Linked DNA regions of Homo sapiens: regions 2 and 3 are each linked to region 1. Evidence: fine-mapped expression QTL. A gene starts in region 1. Each other region holds a variant in brackets. All regions are shown on one strand. Distances are between the middles of the regions. Region 1 holds the start of ANO6 (anoctamin 6). Region 2 overlaps ANO6 (anoctamin 6). Region 3 has its middle 45 kb from the start of NELL2.

Evidence for each region. PIP is the estimated chance that this variant, and not a neighbour inherited with it, causes the effect.
Region 2: its variant is the best candidate, but not a certain one, in a credible set for the expression of ANO6 in skeletal muscle (GTEx, PIP 0.72).
Region 3: its variant is the best candidate, but not a certain one, in a credible set for the expression of ANO6 in whole blood (INTERVAL, PIP 0.54).

What each region holds. Positions count from the first base shown.
Region 1 is chr12:45,214,786-45,217,550 of GRCh38, reverse strand. ANO6 (anoctamin 6) reads right to left here and starts at 1,456. Exons shown (of 20, transcript NM_001025356.3): 1 at 1,160-1,456. The coding sequence starts at 1,229. It also overlaps the pseudogene PLEKHA8P1. RefSeq lists enhancers at 451-580, 1,591-1,690 and a silencer at 821-1,130.
Region 2 is chr12:45,327,859-45,330,623 of GRCh38, reverse strand. All of the region lies in intron 2 of ANO6 (anoctamin 6), which reads right to left. Among named protein-coding and RNA genes, the nearest start is that of ANO6, 110 kb to the right of the region's middle. The variant T/C (reference allele first, on the strand shown) is at 1,202.
Region 3 is chr12:44,920,201-44,922,965 of GRCh38, reverse strand. It overlaps a transcript of NELL2 not described here. Among named protein-coding and RNA genes, the nearest start is that of NELL2, 45 kb to the right of the region's middle. The variant C/A (reference allele first, on the strand shown) is at 1,766.

The DNA of each region.
Region 1 (2,765 bases):
ATGAATGAAATGTGAAACTAAATCATGGAGTGTAATCTCCTCTATTCGATTTGTCCCTGGACAACCAAGAAGTTACCAAATTTTTTTGATCGAAATATTCCGTGCCCAAAATGTAACAGAAATAAAAACCACACCCAACTCCTAAAATTAAGTTACTTTTAAAGTTATTAGATAACAACAGGGCTTTAGAACATCAGCAGGATGTTCTGCTTTAAAATTGATTTGGCATCCAGGAGACTAAGCCGAGTCGCCACAACAGACTGGCTTGGTAATTTAATTAGAGTCTTCTGGAGGGACACATTATATCATCATCCCCCGACAGTGTTCTCTTTAGGGACCTGATTTTCTCTCTAGTCCTCTCATTCCTTTCCCCTTCCTCACCTCCTCTCATCCCTTTTGTTTGCCCTTTTTTTCTTTTTTTGCTCTTAAAACAGCTCTCCCTCCGTTCGTCTTGTCACTTCCATGCATTTTTAACTCTAACTAGAAATGGGTCACCCCAGGTTTGCTCCCCAAGCCCCAGGGCCCCTCAGGACGAGTGAAAAAGGCCCTGCGGTCCTCCCTGCCTGGGGGAATTCCTCCTCCGATCACAGCTCCGGTGGGCTCCGCAGATGGGAAAGGGTTTCCAGCGCGCGCCTAGCGGCCACAAATCACTTCCCGGGGCCGCCCCGCCAGGCCTCAAACCTCCCAGAGCCGTCGGTCGGCTTTTACTTTAACGAGGATTCAGATGGGTCACACCCTGTCCTCCAAATGCGGGCCTGCTCCCCGGACCCCGCCCAGGGGGCTCGCCCCAGTGCCGAGGCTCCTGGGCAACCCTAGCACTCTGCGAGTCGGGGAAGTGACCCCAAAGTTGCTTCTGAGTGGAGACTTCCGCACGCAGAGGCGTCCCCGCAGCTGCCAGGCTTTTCAGGGGCAGCATCCCCCGCCCGTCAGGAGCCTGTCCTCGGGGCCACCACGCGCCCCGCGCCTCAGCCCCGCAGGGGCCGCACCGGGGCCTCAGTCTGCAAGCAGCCGGGGACAGCGGGCTTCCTCCCCTGCCCGGAGCGGCCGAGCGTCTCGGCCAACCTCCCCCGCGGAGAGCACAGCGCCCCCGCGCAGTCCCCGAACTTCTTCCCGCGTCGGCTCGGGCTCTCGGGTGGGGACGCGGGGACCCCTCGCTCACCGATATCCCCATCGTCGTCGTCCTCCTCCTCCTCCATTTGTAGCAAAACATTCCTGCTCATCTTTTTCATGTCTCCCTCAGAAGGCGGCTCCGAACTTGGCGCGAAGTTGGGGGCTCCCGGGTTCCAGAACGGCGCGGCTCTCCCAGGGGCCGGATCGGGGACCGCGGGGCGTGTGTCGCTTGGGCTCAGGGGCCGCTGAGCCCAGCCAGCGCCGGGGAAAGCCGAGCCGAGGCACCCACCGACCGGAGCCCAGAGCCGGAGGACGCCTCTCGCCTGCCGAGCGGAGCCCGGAGACTGAGCATGCCCAGTGCGGCCGCCGCGGCTCGCTGCGGAATGATTGAACTTCCCCGGTTTTACGAGGCGCGCAGAAGGAAGTCGGCAGGCGAGACTGCAGAGGGAGTAGTGCGATCCTGCGCGCGGGGGAACTAGCTGGAGGGCAAGGCGGGAACACGTGAGTGCGGGAGTGGACTGGGTTCCCTGAGCATTGATCCCAAACAGGGCAGCTTTTCGTTCCAAGGTCGTCTGTGGACACACACTGTGGCTTGCTTTGTTTTAACGTCTGATACTGGAGAGGAGGGAAATGCTGCTGCAGCACAACTGCAGAACCCTGGAAGGCGAACTCGTTTGAATGGCTTTTAAAGGCGACGTGGAGCTAATAATGGGGGGATCTTAAATTACTCTAGCTCCGAAGTGGGAAAGTGGAATCTGTACGGGTAGGTTAAGATTACGGTGGAGTCGGGGTGGGAGGAGAGGCAAAACTCAGAGAATAAGCAAAAGAAGAAGGGGCGGGACGGACGGGAGTGGGGGTGGAGAGAATTTTCTAAATAAACGTGTGCACAAAGGCAGGAGGATTTCCGCATACATTGAGGTCGCGGAGAGTGGAGAAGCGCCCCCTACTCCGCCCGCGCGAGCACACAGGGAGTGGTCGGAAGATAATCGCTGAAGCGTCCAGCCTATTTGTACAATTGAAACTAGTCCTCTGTGTCAAAGAGGGAGAAGAAGCCGAAGACCACTAGAGTTAGATGTAAACTCTTCTAAAGCAATGTGGAAAGCTATAATAAGAGAAAAGAAAGTCGTGAAATAAAATTAAGGCAGAGAGTTTTTATTTTTATTTTTAATGCTTTCCTGGAAACCAAAGGGACCGATAGGACAAATACAAAGGGATTTAGTACTTTAAAGACCCTTGGAGTTGTTTGAACGGCAGGTTTTGGGGATCGCGTGTCTACAAAACTTTTTTCAAAAAAGCTGGTACATTCAGGTTGTTCAATTTTGACTTCTCAAAAGGGCTAGAAGGTATATTTGAAATCTTGGTTATATGTGTTATTGTCTACTCATTGAAATTGTTTATATTTTTTCCACTGAAGTGCTAGGGTTATCACAATAACACTAAATCTACTGTGCATGTTTTTTCTTCCACATACTTTTTTTAAGACGGTCTCGCTCTGTTGCCGAGGTGGGAGTTCAGTAACTAGAACTACAAGCGGAGCACACCACCATGTGGGGCTTATTCTTAAATTTTTTTGTAGAGATGGGTGTCTCACTATGTTGCCCAGGCTGGTTTCGAACTCCTGGCCTCCAGCAATCCTTGCACCTCAGTTTCCTAAC
Region 2 (2,765 bases), 110 kb before region 1:
CTTATGGTTTAAAAGGAAATGATGGCAGAACAGAGACCAAATACAAAAATACCTGTGAACATATGGAGTTGGATAGAATTGTTCTAATTTACTCTGAGGAATGATTTGAATTTGTGTTCTCACACAGCTTGTCAGAATGCTCATGTTAATTTTGTTAAGAATCGACTGCTTTTTAACTACGTGATACTGAAAAGTTTTCTATGATTCATTAAAAACTGATAAGATTTCATTTTGCAATCATTTGTATAACTTGTACATTGTGTTCATTAAATGTGATTAATTCTCCTCTTCATTATCGATTAGCACAGAAGCTACACAATTTTACCACACACCACTTTCTCCTTTTCTTCTCACTTTTGAAAACATATTTTTTGATACTTATATGAAACGTGATATTTATCATTCCTTTCCCCTTTTCCACTGTGGAACACATGAAGGTTTATTACCAGTATCTGAAGTTCCTAATTGGCAGGTTTTTTCACCAGCAGAATGAATGCTGCTGATGTAACCCATCTCAATGCACCTTCATCCAGTGCATTTAACCAGGAATTCTAAGCACAAACAGCGTGACTGCCATGAGACCTTTCCTATCCAGGGCAATAAAGGGCTAGGAAAACAAAGACACATCCATGTCTTAGGCTGATATCACTATCCAATTCTTATATTTGCAATTTCAGTTATTTCAAATCAATAAACTTTAAGAGTATTTAAAACTATATGAAAATGCTGAGCCATGTCTTTTTCATTTCAGCCACAGAGTCCTTTAGGTCCATTCAATTTCTCTTACTTTCAATGAGGACTATACTATGGGTGACAACCAGGGCTATTGCTAGAGGAAAATTGTGCATGGAGAAAAATATATATATATAATTTCTCAGAAGAACAAAGGGGAAGTGGGGTCCAGTGGAATATAGTCAGGAAAACCTGGTCATCATTGCAAACATCTGAAAAATGTACAAAAAGCAACTTGTTCTCTGTAGCCCACATTCTGTTGCCTTTGGTGGAGTCCAGCAGGAGCTCACGGAAGTTAAGTTCTGAAGAATTAGGCCTGGAATGAGAACCACATCTGTACATGGCTCCAGGCACTCTTCCCTTGCACAGTGGCACAGGTTGGCAGTTAGCTCCCAGATAATCTGGTCTGCATGCAAACCTCCCATGTGTGATGCAAGACCATGGCCCTTTATTTGGAGGAAAACCTCAC[T/C]GACTTGGCAACATTTGCCTGTGTGTAATAAGTAGGTCAAACTCCAATATGGTACTATTAGAATGCAATACTAGAGAAAAGAGTGCCAGTCTCTACTGCTGTGAAATCCAGGTTTCCTATCTCTTGGCAGAAGACATTCTACCACATAATGGGGAAAAAGGGAGAAACTAATATCACTAGCCTGGAAAGAATATGTAACAAATAACGGAACTGGCCTAAATAAAAACAGATAGTTAAAATGCTGAAGTTAAATTATTTGTCCAAGATCTGAATAAAAGCAGTCAGATTAGGATCTTTGCTCAAATTCTTGTTCATGTGTAAGGGTGTTTGAAAGTTGCCTTGGACAGCAAGTGAGATTGACTTACTGTATGGGAATTCCCAAATAGCCTATTCCTCCCCTGACACGGTTGTCATTTACTGAGATTGGAGAGTATTCCAGGCTCATTTGGGTTAATGGTCTCTCAACCTTTACGCCTAGCAGGATGCAAGAAAGGTTTACTGTCTAACAATAAAGTTGAAGAATTACACTACGAAAAGTAAGTATCAAAACATTCACATAATTTGAATTGTAACTGATGTGCAAATATGGAAAAAACATGGGGCTCTCTACAATTTTTAAGACAAGAAAAAGTAGTTAATTCCAAGAAGAACACAAAGGGAAAAAAACTGTAATAATAGACAACTACTAAAGTAAAAATATGGAATCTTCTATTTTTCAGTAAATTGTGAATCCAGGTACATAGCAAGTTCTAGGGAAACAAAAGATTAGAAGCAAAAGCCTTTACGTAAATATTTAGATTTCTCAAAATATGAAACATAATAAAATTTTATTTACATGCTATGCAGTTATGAATGACACATATTCCTAAGTGTTTTTCCTAACTGTTGCAGAGCTCAGGCATCAGAGTCAAGGCATGAGTAATAAGTAGAACGTTTTTTCCAACAAAACGGTGCAAAAATATTGCAGAGATAGAAGACACTAGATCAAATTTTTTTCATTTTTATCAAAATGCAAACTACAAAGTTCAAGAAAAACAGTAATAATTGAGCCAAAAAAGTGCCAAGAACTGCAGGTATGGAAGGCTGACTTCCGAAGGTGGAAAGACAAGTATTGTGGAAGCTGGGGTGGGGAGGAAAGGAAGTAACATAGTAACTCTGGACACACAGGGGAGCCACACAGGAAGTCAGCTCAGTAAATGGTGTGTGCTGTAGGGAGTAAATGAGCTTGTTTTTGACCTGACCAGGCATTCAGGAATGTGCAGACAGCAAAGAAGCACAGTGGAAAAGGAGCCCATTCAAGGATGAAAATGCATCCTGAAGCTTGGACTCCAAGTCTGTTTTAGAGTCAAATGTGTCAGGATGTTCCAAGAACATCCCTTGGTTGTGACTCTATGATGATCAAGGTGTACTCAGGAATGGCCCAGAATGATTTTTGTACAAGTCACACTGTCTGCTTCCTGCCCTGTTAAACCACACTATCAGCTTCTGAAGATTAGTGGCCAGGTCTGGCTTGTTCACCGTGAGTTCTCTGCTGAGAACTCAAGGGCTCAGGTTTATTTTTTTC
Region 3 (2,765 bases), 290 kb after region 1:
GTGTGTCTTCTCTGTAAAAACATGAACTTCCAAGAACTGGTACTTTGTTACACTTACTCACACCATATCCCAGCAGCACTAGGTATAATGCCCAGGACATAGCAGACTCAATAAGTATTGCCAAATGAATGAATTGGCCTACTGTATTACCTCCCTAGAGCTGCCGTAACAAAGTATATCAAATCAGGTAGCTTAAAACAACAGAAATTTATTGTCACAGTTCTGGAGACTTGAAGTCTCAGATCAAGGTATCTGCAGGGCTATTCTCCCTCTGAGGTCTCTGGGGGAAGAATTCTTTCTTTCTTCTAGCTTTTGGTATTTGCTGGCAATCATTGGCATTCCTTGGCTGATAGCTGCATCACTCCACTCTCTGCCTCTATCGCTGCATGGCCTTTTTTCCTGTGTGTCTAATCTGGTCTATTTCTGTGTTGAATATTCCTCTTATAAGGATACCAGTCATTTGATCAGGAGCCACACTAGTCCAGCATGATTCATCTTAACTTAATTACATCTGCAAAGACCCTATTTCCAAATAAGGTTACATTCACAGGGATGAGGTGGGGGGTGCAGGTGGTTAGTATTTCAACATATCATATTAGGGGACACAACTAAAAATTCAACCAACTGTCCCTATTTCTCTCAGAAAAAGGAAATCTAAGAAGTTAATATTAAAATTCATATATTGTAGTATTTAAAAAGGCTTATTTCTAAGTAAGTTTTATATAATGTACAAACATTTGACTTTGTGTCAAATTACCATTTTACTTTGTGTAAGTACGATAAATTGTTTTGATTTGTTTTAGACTATTTGGTTGAATCCTAACTACACCAATATCAATGCCATCCTAAAAAACCAAGACTATGATCTGACCAAATTAAACTCATGTTCTCTATTCCCTTAGCAGAAGAGAACTAATTTCTTCATGTATTAAAAATAAATGAATATGGAAGCATACTCATGATACTCGCATCTTAAAAATCCACCCCGACATTTTTGCAAAGACTGTGTGTGGGACGTTGACATATTTTTGTTATACAATGACAGTTTTAGTGCAAGTTGTTCCCATTGTGACCAGGGAGGAAGAGCAAATAAAAGGGAAAGAATAAGTTCCAGTACAAACCACATGTGAACTGAAGCTGTCAGGTTCCACAAAGGCAGAAGTACTCTCTGAAAAGGTAGAGAAGTCCTTTTGTGTATGATAGGTGGGGTGGAGGGTGGGAGGGTCACTAATATTGTCTGCTGTATGCTATCTTAGGAAAGTCATTTTTTCCTATCAAACACCACCTTGTGTCTTTTGAACTCCATTAGCACTTTTTTTGTTTTTAGTTTTCTCAAATGACCCTTACGTAATACTTATTGCTTGTACTGTTCTAAGTGCTTTACATGTATTAATTCAATTAATCATCATAACAATTCATTTCCATTGTGCAGCTGAGGGTCAAGGTACACAGAGGTTACATTACATGTGAGCTGGAGCCACAATTCAAGCCTGCCTGTCTAACTTTGGGGCCCACTCTCTGACCCATCTTGCTATACCGCCTACGTAGTTACTGAATTTTGAACTTGTTATAGACCTCTGCCAGACTGTAAGCGTCTGAGAGCCTGGCCACTGTGTCTTTCTTACATTTGTATTTTCTGTAAAGCCTAGCTTAGTATTTTGTGCACAATAGGTACTCAGTAAATGCTTGCAAATGAATTGAAATTAGACCACGATTTGCACAAGTCTATCTAGTGTTTAGGTCTCTGACTTCCATGTCATGGTTT[C/A]AATGAGAAGACGTTCATTTGAAAAAAATAGAATCCCAAATAGATATAAATAATCTAGGGAAGCAGACAAATGTCAGTTTGGGTGCTTCCAGCCTCTCTCATGGGTGCTCTTTTCCTTTCTTCCCTCCTCAGCCCCCTACCAGCTAACTATAAAAGTGTGTACGTAGATTAGGATCTCAAATGATTTCACTGAGAGTAGCTTAAAGTGTTACTCTCTTAAGAACATTTGTGTTTTCACAGAAATTAATTTCTAATAATTTCAGCCATCAGTCAATAAATGAGGGAGGTATTCATTTGAGCAACAGACAGACTCCAGAGTTGTGGAAATTACACCCATTTTTATGTAAAGTATTTCATTTTATGGATTTGTTGGTAACATTTGCACTGGTTTGTACTCTCTCTCTTGCTGTGTAAATATAAGACTAATTAAAAGCAAATAAAAACTTTAATCTTCAATTTAAAATCTGGCAGTACTGAAATATTGTAGACATGTTGGTATTCATTTGCTTGTAGGAAATTCTGCCACTAAGAATTTAAATTTAATTTGCCTTTTTATTATGTGATATGTGCATCACAAGCCTGTGGGCAGTAGATGAGCTTTAATAAAGCTAAAAATAAATAAAATGGGAATGTTAATAAACCTTGTAGCTCATTAAACATTTGGATTCACTGAGTATATATCTATTAATTTTAGATGAGACTACATTAGGAAACCTTTGTTACATGAAGGTTGTAATTAAGTGAATAATATATTCAAATTCAATACAAAACATCTTCTTCCACATCTTTTTAGTGACAATTCTTTAGTAAAAAATTTCAAGGAACTGAAAGGCTTAAAAAGTAATGATTAAATATGCAAATATAACAATTTATAGTTCTTTCTAAAGAATTAAAATTTGAAAGATATGTCCAAATGGATTCTCTTCTTATATCTCATTATCTTCTTTATCTACTTTAGCATTTGTGATTTCATTATTTTATTAAGAAAGTGCTCTCATTT